Linked DNA regions of Homo sapiens: region 2 is linked to region 1. Evidence: fine-mapped expression QTL. Tissue or cell type: whole blood. Region 1 holds a variant in brackets; the other region holds the start of a gene. All regions are shown on one strand. Distances are from middle to middle.

Region 1 (5,000 bases):
TGATTGAATAATATAACACCAGAATTACAGGTAAAAAGTAAATTATAAAATCTATGGAGGCAGATTTCATACCTGTCTTACTTTTATGTAGGTCAGTGCTAAACATTTAAATATTTGTTGAATGAGTAACTGAATAAACAAATCAGAAAAGATTTCACAATGTCTTCTTATCCAGGTCCCTGTCTTTTGGATAAATTATTATATCCCCACTTTACATGTAAAACAAATTGGCAAGAGGAATTAGGTAACAATATGGGCCTTGAAGGATTTATTTTCATATCTCATATAGATTTTTCAAAAACAGGTGTTAGACTCTTTGAATTCCATGACAGTAGTAAAAAGAGCCTGCGGCCTACTTTCAACACTTAACAAAACTGAATAATTATGCATGGTACGATTATAGAGGCAGTTTTGCTGCTTTTCATTATTTAATGTAGATTACAAGTTCTATTTGACATGTATATAAAAATTTGATCATCAAAAAGGAGAAAACCAGATACTTAATGCAGTTTAAGTTGTAAAAACATCTTTTTAAATTTTTTTAATTCAAATGGAATAAATAATTAGAAAATAATGAAGAAATTAACTTTTTGATTAAAAGTTTAGAAGCTAGTCTCTTACATAAAATTCATTTTTAGATTAAAAAAAAAAGACAAGGCAAAGATACTAGGAATGAACACCCGTTCTCTCCTGCTTCCTCTTTCTCTTCAGTTAATGCACCTCTCCCTGAGTATTATGAGAGGTTGTGGTGTTTCTAATCCAGAACACTCTGGCAGGGTTTTCTTGGTAGACAGTTGTCTCACCCAGGATGCTTACTCTATACTACTTGTTCATGGCTGAGCAGCAAAATAAGAGGTCCATGGTCTGACCTGCACAGCAGGAGCCATGACCTTTTTTCTCCCTACAGCAGTAACAAGGCAAGAGCATATTAAATACACCTAAGTATTTCTGGACAATATTTTTCTATTTAAGGATAAAACCCATCTGGCAAATAATCTAATTTTTCCTTCTGTTTTTGTTTGAGTTTGTTTTTTTCAATGTAGGGTAGGGGGACACTCCTGTCTCTCTTTCTTTGGCTATTTCCACATTCACACAAATAAAAAATTCAGTCTCATTATTTTCACAGCTATTTGATATGTATTCACACACTTATGTATGAAAATAACAGAATGGGGCAAAAAACAGGAAAAAAGATCTAGAATTGAGGTTGTAATGTTTCATTGTATGAATATGAAAACAAGAAAAACACATTAGGGGTTTTTGTTTTTGTAGGAGGCGGCATAGATCTTGAAGCACTAGGAATTTTGGTTCAGGAAGTAAAATGTTTTAAAAGGATTCCACCCATATTAGAGATTCCACCATGTGGTTTTCACTATTTACAGAGGATTTATGAAGTAAAATCCAGATACAGCATATCCTGTTATAGGTAAGTGAGCCTTTTAATACTTAAAATAGTAAAGCTGCATTGATACACATTAAGTGTTCTTATAGATCCAATAAATCTGCCCCTGGCCAAAATAAAGTTATTTGATAATCATAATTACAAAAACAACACCAGCACTACATAACTTAATTTCATTTTGTAGAGGTTACTAGTCTAATACATAAAAATTAGACAATAGACACATTTTCTTTATTTCATAACTTTTTCATAAATATATGTGACAACTTGGCATCAATATTAGAATCAGCCTAAGACAGAGCTGATTATACTCTAATACATGCTTTTATTCAGTCACAGCTATTATGGAAACCAAGGCAGAAAATGATGCATTAGCAAAACTAACCTTCTTCATATCACTAATAAAAGTGGTAAATGCTACAGCTAACATCATACTACAAGCTCTCAGCTTTTCTTCTAAGAACTGAAATGAGACAAGGATGCTCACCCCTTTTATTCAACATAGAACTGGAAGTCCTAGTCAGAGCAATTAGGCAAGAGAAAGAAAAATAAAGGGCATCCAAATTGGAAAGGAAGAAGTCAAACTGTTCCTATTTGCAGACAACATGATCTTATACATAGAAAAACCTAAAGTCTCTACCAAAAAACTCTTAGAATAAATGAATTCAGTAAAGTTGCAGATATAAAATCAACATAGAAAAATCAGTAGCATTTTCTATATGCAAGCAATGAACTAAGAAATCAAGAAGCAATCCATTTGCAATAGGTACAAAAACACATACACACAAAACAAATGGGAATAAATTTAACTGAGGAGGTGAAAACCTTCACAAAAATAACTACAAAACACTGACGAAAGAAACCGAGGAGGATACAGACGAATGGAAAAACATCCCCGGCTCGTGGATCAGAAGAATTAATATTGTTAAAAGGACCACACTATCCAAAGTGATCTATAGATCCAATGTAATCCTTATCAAAATAACAATGACACTCTTCATGCAAGTAGAAAAAAAATCCTAAAACTTCTATGGAACCACAAAAGACCCTAAACAGCCACAACAATCCTCAGCAAAAGGAACAAAGCTGGAGGCATCAAACTACCACACTTCCAAATATACTACAAAGCTGTAGTAACCAAAAAACAGCATGGTATGGCATAAAAACAGAAACACAGACCAACAGAACAGAGAACCTAGAAATACATCCATGTATCTACAGCCAATTGATTTTAGTTAGAAGTACCAAGAACCTAAGTTGAGGAGAGAACACTCTCTTCAATAAATGGTGCTGGGAAAACTAGATGTCCACATGCAGAAGAATGAAACCAGATCTAACCCCCTCACCTTATATAAAAATCAACTCAAAATGGATCAAAGACCTAAATGTAAGACCTCAAACTACAAAACCACTTTAAGAAAACAGGTGAAATACTTCAGGACATTGGTTTGGGAAATGATTTTATGAATAAGACCTCAAAAGCACAGACAACAAAAGCAAAAAATAAATTAGTGAGATGATACCAAACTTAAAAAATAAATTAGTGAGATGATGTAAAACGCTTCTGTACAGCAAAGGGAACAAACAAGGGTAAAAAGACAACCTACAGAATGGGAGAAAATATCAACAGCAAAAAATAAAAATTCAATTAAAAATGGGCAAAGAGCCTGAATAGACACTTCAAAAAAGAACACATACAAAATGACCAATAAACACAT[G/GAAAA]AAAAAAAAAAAAAAAAAACTCAATACCACTGATCATCAGGGAAATGCAAATCAAAACTATAATGAGGTATCGTCTCATCCCAGTTATGATGGCTATTAGCAAAAAGACAAAAAATAAACTCTTGCAAGGATGCAGAGAAAAGGAATTCTTTTTTGAGACAGGGTCTTGCTCTGTTGCCCAGGCTAGAGTGCAGTGGCATGGTCATAGCTCACTGAGTCCTCAACTTCCTGGGCTCAAGTAATCCTCTTGCTCAACTTCCCAACTAGCTGGGACTATGGATATGCACCACCAGGCCTGGCTAATTTTTTGATTTTTAGTAGAGATGAGGTCTTGCTATGTTGTCCAGGGTGGTTTCAAATTCCTGAACTCAAGCAATCCTCCCACCTCAGCCTCCCAAAGTGCTAGGATTACACTTGTGAGCCACTGCACCGGCCAGGAAAGGAACTCTTATACACTGTTGGTGAGAATGTAAACTAGAACATATACTACTATGGACAACAGTATGAAGTTCCTCACAAAACTAAAAATAGAATTACCATATGATCCAGCAACCCCACTACAGGGCATTCATCCAAAGGAAAAAACAATCAATACATCAAAGAGGCATCTGCATCTCCCCAGCATGTTTACTGCAGCACTATTCACAACAGCCAAGACATGGAATCAACCTAAGTGTCCAACAACAGATGAAGAACAGATAATGAAAATGTGGTATATGCATACAATGGAATGCTATTCAGCCATTAAAAAAATGAAATCCAGTCATTAACAGCAACATGGATGGAACTGGAGGACATTATGCTAAGTGAAATCAAGCCAAGAACCAAAAGTTAAACACCCAATATTCTCACTGATATGTGGAAGCTAAAAAAAGTTTATCTCAGCCGGGTGCAGTGGCTCACGCCTGTAATCCCAGCACTTTGGGAGGCCGAGGCGGACAGATCACCTGAGGTTAGGAGTTCGAGACCAGCCTGACCAGCGTGGTGAAACTCCATCTCTACTAAAAAATACAAAAATTGATGGGTGTGGTGGCGGGCGCCTGTAATCCCAGCTACTCTGGAGGCTGAGGCAGGAGAATCACTTGAGCCTGGAAGGCAGAGGTTGCTGTGAGCCGAGACCACACCACTGCACTCCAGCAAGAGCGAAAACTCCATCTAAAAAAAAAAAAGGGTTGATATCATAGAAGTAGAAAGTAGGACAGAGTATACTAGAGGCTGGGAAGGGTGGGAGGAAGAGAGGGATAGGAAGAGATTTGTTAAAGGATACAAAATTACCGCAAGACTGGAGGGCAAAGTTCTAGTGTTCTATATACCACTGTAAGATAACTACAATTAGCAATAATACATCACCTAGTTTCAAAGATCTAGAAGGAGGAAACTGAATGTTCTCAACACAAAGAAATGATAAATGTTTGAGATGCACATACTAATTACCCTGATATGATCACTACATACTACATGTATTGCAACATCACTATGTACCCCATAAGTATGTACAATTATTATGGGTCAGTTAAAAAAAATCAATAAATAAAACATTTTAAGTGGTAACTGAAGAAAAAAAGAGGACAAATTCAGTGGTGCTATTTTCCTTCAACAAAGTATATGGCTTGTTTATGTTTGCTGGAATATTTAAATAGTGGATGCAAAGGTAGTCTCTGGTTGTATTTTTTCTAAAGGGAAACAAATGGTTATTCCCTAAAATGCCTAAAACTGGCTTCCTTGCCAATTTCCAAAGTATGGTCTTCAAATACATTTGTTTTGGAAGGGATAAAAAGACTTTTTTTTTTTTTTTTTGCAACCTCAAGCATTGTGAAATAATAAGAGCATTATACACAACAAATTATTTAATTAGTTTAAACATGATCTGAAGGAGAAAT
Region 2 (5,000 bases), 85 kb before region 1:
GACCAACAAGGTGAAACCCCCGTCTCTACTAAAAATACAAAAAAAATTAGCTGGGCATGGTGGCGGGCACCTGTAATCCCAGCTACTTGGGAGGCTGAGGCAGGAGAGTCACTTGAACCCAGGAGGCAGAGGTTGCAGTGAGCCAAGATCGCATCATTGCACTCCAGCCTGGGCAACAAGAGTGAAACTCTGGCTCAAAAAATACATATATAAATAAAAAGAATATCCTATAAAAGTATTAAAACAGCACTTTTAAGTAAAACTCACACTTCCCTCCATTTAAGTCCTCCTATAAAGTAATATATCTATACATATTTCAGTGGGAGGGTCAGTACTTATGAAAACAAATACATACAAGTAGTTTAAAGGATAGTTTTAATATGAGTAAATGCACTTTTATGCTCAACTATTTTATACTCCAGTGACACTGCAGACCTCCCAAATTCTCTCTAGTTAAAATGAGATAACTCAGAAGTTAATACAGCCTCTACATAAGACCTTTCACCACCAAATATTTTAAGATTCTGCCAAGCATCAGGCCATAGTTATAGAATGTTTTAACTTAATGAAATTGTAGGGTATAATCTCTACAGAATGGGCCTCAAGCCTAACTAAGTGATCTCCAAAAATATGCCAACCCCTTTATCCCCCCACACCATTATGGACCAAACAATTACAGTTCCATTGACCCTCATAGCTTACTGAAGTTATATGAAAGAACGGAAAGATGTGGGTCACATTCCAATAATCAATTGTGTGACCTAACCAAAAGGACCTATTCGCTCAGTCTCACGTCCTCCACCTGTAGAGATACCTATGCTGTGACATACTGAAAGAATTAAAGGAGAGGGTGAATGAAATGTCCCCTCTATGCCCACTAGCACATGGCACTTCTCAATTCATGTTCATTTCTCCTTCTTTATTTGAAGTGGTGAAAGAAATCAGAAGCAATTTAAGACTTTTCACAGCACTGTTTGATCTCATTTCTTAATATTTTTGACAAAAACCATCTACAGGTTAAGCTGTGGAATCTCAACATAAATGCACATTTTTAGTGTTCCTTCAGCTTTACTTCAAAACCACTACGGGAATTAAAATACGGTAGGAATAATCTTCTGACAGAATAGGAATGACATAACTTTTAGAATAAATGCCCACTTCAGAGTAAATAAGAAGATAAAGGAGGTATCATCATAAGTTGATGAGAATCCTATGATCACTACCACTTTCTGGAAGTAGCTCCCAGAAATATTAAAATCTAGTAATTTTAATTGACTCAAACATCATTTTTAGTAAACATTCTGGTATCCAAAAGCATGAGACTAAACAATGATATTGAAAAGATTAATATTATTTGGAAATGTATTCCACAACTAATTTATTCTGGGCCTACCTGCAGGGATAGTCGTCCCAAAATTAAACGTTCTATAGGTACAAAGTAATTTTAAAACTGGATGTTTTAATTTCAAAACTTATAAATTTTCTGAGCCAAAGCATTCTCTTCCATGTATAGAACTAGGGTTTTAACCAAATACTTGGTTGAAAGCTGTACAAATCCAAACATAATTGAAGTCTTGATTCTGCCACTTTCAAGAGTGGGTGGTACAGATTCTTCTCATTCATAACATTAGTTTCTAGCTGATGTGGTTCGTTATTCAAAGAACACTTAACAGTCCTTCATAAAATGGTAGATTCAGTCTAAGGACTAAGAGTAGAACATTCTGGAATAACAATAACGTTTACAAACACCACTTACCATTTGGTCCTAGGTTTTCATAAAAAATTGATATAGGCAGCAGATGTATACAGAACACCCTAGTTGAGGCCAGTTTAAGTGTAAAATACCCACATACTCAAAGCCTAAGAACAATTTACTTAAGACAAAACAATGTTGGAGAAATTGCCCAATATCACAAATGTAGCAGTCACCCCTAAACAGTGTTTTTGATTAATGACAACCAATTTCCTTCAATCTTAAAGGCAACCAATTCAAGCCAGTAGGTTAAATCCTTGAAGTATACTGCAATGCTACTCCTTTTTTCCAGGGAATCAGATGAGAATTTTGTGCTAAGAACTTATCAGGAAAATGGAAGTAACGAAAATTAACACGCCAAAATATGAGTATAAGAAATATAAGCCTCCTTAATAATCAGCCAAGAAAAAAATAATCAGGTTATGTCTCCTCCCACCCATTCTTTCTGTCTTAACCTTCTGCAAAAGCCGGCTGGATTCAGAGTAGAAATAAACGAATTTTACAATGAGTCGAGTACCACCAAAAATCAAAAGTGGGAGCTTACTCGTCCTCCAGGTCTGACCCGCCTCCAGCCCGAGGCCACCAAAAGACACACCTCCCTTCCCCCAACCCGCCACAGCCGGCTCTACAGGTAACAGGCGTTTCTTCTCGCGCAGTTTGAACAAAAACAATCCAGAAGGAACAGATTTGGTTTTTTAAAAAAAATGAACAAAAGCCAAAAAAGCCACAAACACAACCTAAACCTTCTAAGAAGCTCGACTACTCCCGTTCTGCACGTTCCTTCCCAGAAGGATGCAGACCCCCGGTGTCGGCGGGAACCAGGAAGCTCTTGGGGCCTCCCTGGGCCAGACCTGCACCCGGGAAGCCGCCGCAAGGCTTCAGGAGCCCCAGGTCGCCCCAAGGCCGCGCCGCAGGATTGAACAAAGCGGCGGGTGCAGCAACCTCGGCGCTTCCGAGCGCGTTCGGGGCCGGACGCCCGGCGTCCGGCGCTGGCTCCAGAAAGGCGGCGGGTGTGGGGCGCAGAGGCCTATCTCGCGCCCTAGCCGCGGCCCGCGCCCCGCCGCAGTCCCCGGGGACGGTACTCACACACGCAGAGCTCCACCACGTACGCGTAGTAGGACCAGACGACCACGAAGGTGATGAAGAGCACCGGCACCCAGCCCACGACGCGCTGGCAGCAGCGCCACAGCGTCCAGGGCGCCATGTTCCGCTGGCGGCTGCCGAGCCCCGCGTCCCACCGTTCTGGGGAGCGCGGGAGCCCCGGCGACGGTGACTCGGACGCTCCAGGCGGCTGCTGGTCCAGCTCCCCCGCCTCCGAGGCAGGACTTGTGGGAGCAAAAGTCCGAGGCGCCGCCGGGACTCCTCCCGTCCCGGCGCCCAGCCAGGCCCCGCCCCCACCCCACATCCCGTCGCCCCCCTCCCCCCGCGTCCGTCCCCGCCAGCCCGCCCGCCGCGGGCCGCGGGCCGCCCCCGGTCTCCGCGTCGTTGGGGCGGGGTTTCCGCGGCCGGGGAGGCGGTGAGGGGGCGGGGCCGCAGCTCGGGACCGCCCATGGGGCGTGGCGGGGCTGGATGCGGACAGGCTGGGCGGACGCGGGAGGCCGGGGAAGGAGAGGCGAAAAACACGCCCTTGATGGATGAGAGGGACAGGGGATAGCTTTTGTGGATCGAGACTCAATAGGGGAGGGAGACTATGGAAATGATTCCTTAGCTGATTTGTGGATCTTGGCCCTCTCTGTGTACAGAACTCGCTCCACTGGGGTTCCTGGGACATTGAGTAGTTGGGGCACTGTTTCAAACATGACAAGGCCATTCCCCACTCAGTGTGCGAAGAATGCACATTGTTAGAAGGCTCCTCCTGTGATTTTTATGTTCGTCCATCTTGGCGGAACCCCTCCCTTTCTTGAAGATGGAACGGTAGATACCTGTAATTTCGGGTAGAAGCCATGTAGGGTCCATCAGTTTGATTCGTAACCCAAATTTAAGATTGAGTAGCGAGAAGGAAAGGGCATGTAAATGACCCTCTCCTTGCCCCGCAAACGACTAAGGAAATTTAAAGAATTTATTTACAACTAGAGGTTGCTAAGCAATGACGATAATCATATAGAACCCAGAAGCATCACTGTGAAGACTTCACAATGCAAGGTCAGACGCATTAGAAGGGATTCCAGACCGCAATCTTCATACCAGTTCCTGCTACTAGCATTCAGTTTTGGTTAGAATGAATTTTTGTGTTTGTTTTTTGAAACAGGGTCTTCTCGCTCTGTCGCCCAAGCTGGAGTGCAGTGGCACGACCTGGGCTCATTTAAGCCTCGACCTCCCTGCTAAAGCACTCCTCCTGCTTCAGCCTGCAGAGTAGCAGGGACTACAGGCCCGCCACCATGCCCAGCTGATGTTTGTATTTTCTGTAAAAACTAGGTTTCGCCCTGTTGCCATGCTGGCCCTGAACTCCAAGGCTCAAGGAATCCCAACCCCTCTCCGCCTCCACCTCCCAAAGAAGTGCTGAGATTACAGGTGTGAGCCACCACGACCGGCCTACACTGAGCTTTAAATTAGCTACTGCTCACTAAAGTCTCCATGAAGAAGACGTCACCCTTTGCTGTGTCAGAGAAATGTAGTAAAAGCGAGTAAGTATTTAATCACTGCACACTGCTGCTTGAGTAATAAAGCATGTATAAAAGATTCTGTTCTCCCTGATTTTGTGCCTTAAAAGTCATATTAGTTAGTGGCCTAGTTGACAGTAGGTTTAGGTTCAAGTTCAACTAGTTTTCCAGAGAGGCTGCTTAGGAGGGTTAGACCTCAACATAGAATTCGGATGGACATGGAAGAACATAAAGCCGTTTCTCCTCTATGTCATCTCTACGTACCAAAACCATGCTGCTAGAGCTCAGCACAAAGCCATGTCCTTTACAAGCTCCAGGGCTGCTAGAAATGATCTTTCACGACATTTTGTTTATAACCTAACTATAAAACTGTCACATTCGTTTCCTAGGGTGACTATAACAAAGTACCACAAAACTGGGGAATAATAGAAATTGGTTGTCTCACAGTTTAGGAGGGTAGGTGTCCCAAATCAAAGTGTTGGCAAGGATATTGGATATGGTTTGGATGTTTGTCCCCTCCAAATCCCATGTTGAAATGTGATCCCAGTGTTGGAGGTGGGACCTGGTGGGAGGTATTGGATCATTAGGGTGGATCCCTCATGAATGGTTTAGTGCCATCCCCTTGGATGAGGGGTTCTTTCTCTAGT

The links. PIP is the estimated chance that this variant, and not a neighbour inherited with it, causes the effect.
Region 2: it holds the start of ZDHHC20, and the variant in region 1 is fine-mapped to the expression of ZDHHC20 in whole blood (INTERVAL, PIP above 0.99).

Annotation. Positions count from the first base shown.
Region 1 is chr13:21,541,396-21,546,395 of GRCh38, forward strand. The region is part of intron 2 of MICU2 (mitochondrial calcium uptake 2); the gene reads right to left. Among named protein-coding and RNA genes, the nearest start is that of MICU2, 60 kb to the right of the region's middle. The variant G/GAAAA (reference allele first, on the strand shown) is at 3,121.
Region 2 is chr13:21,456,215-21,461,214 of GRCh38, forward strand. ZDHHC20 (zDHHC palmitoyltransferase 20) reads right to left here and starts at 3,089. Exons shown (of 13, transcript NM_001330059.2): 1 at 2,840-3,089. The coding sequence starts at 2,957. It overlaps LOC124903131 (a long non-coding RNA gene), which reads left to right and starts at 3,333. Exons shown (of 2, transcript XR_007063713.1): 1 at 3,333-3,965; 2 at 4,169-4,432. RefSeq lists a silencer at 3,002-3,381, an enhancer at 3,245-3,414 and a cis regulatory region at 3,330.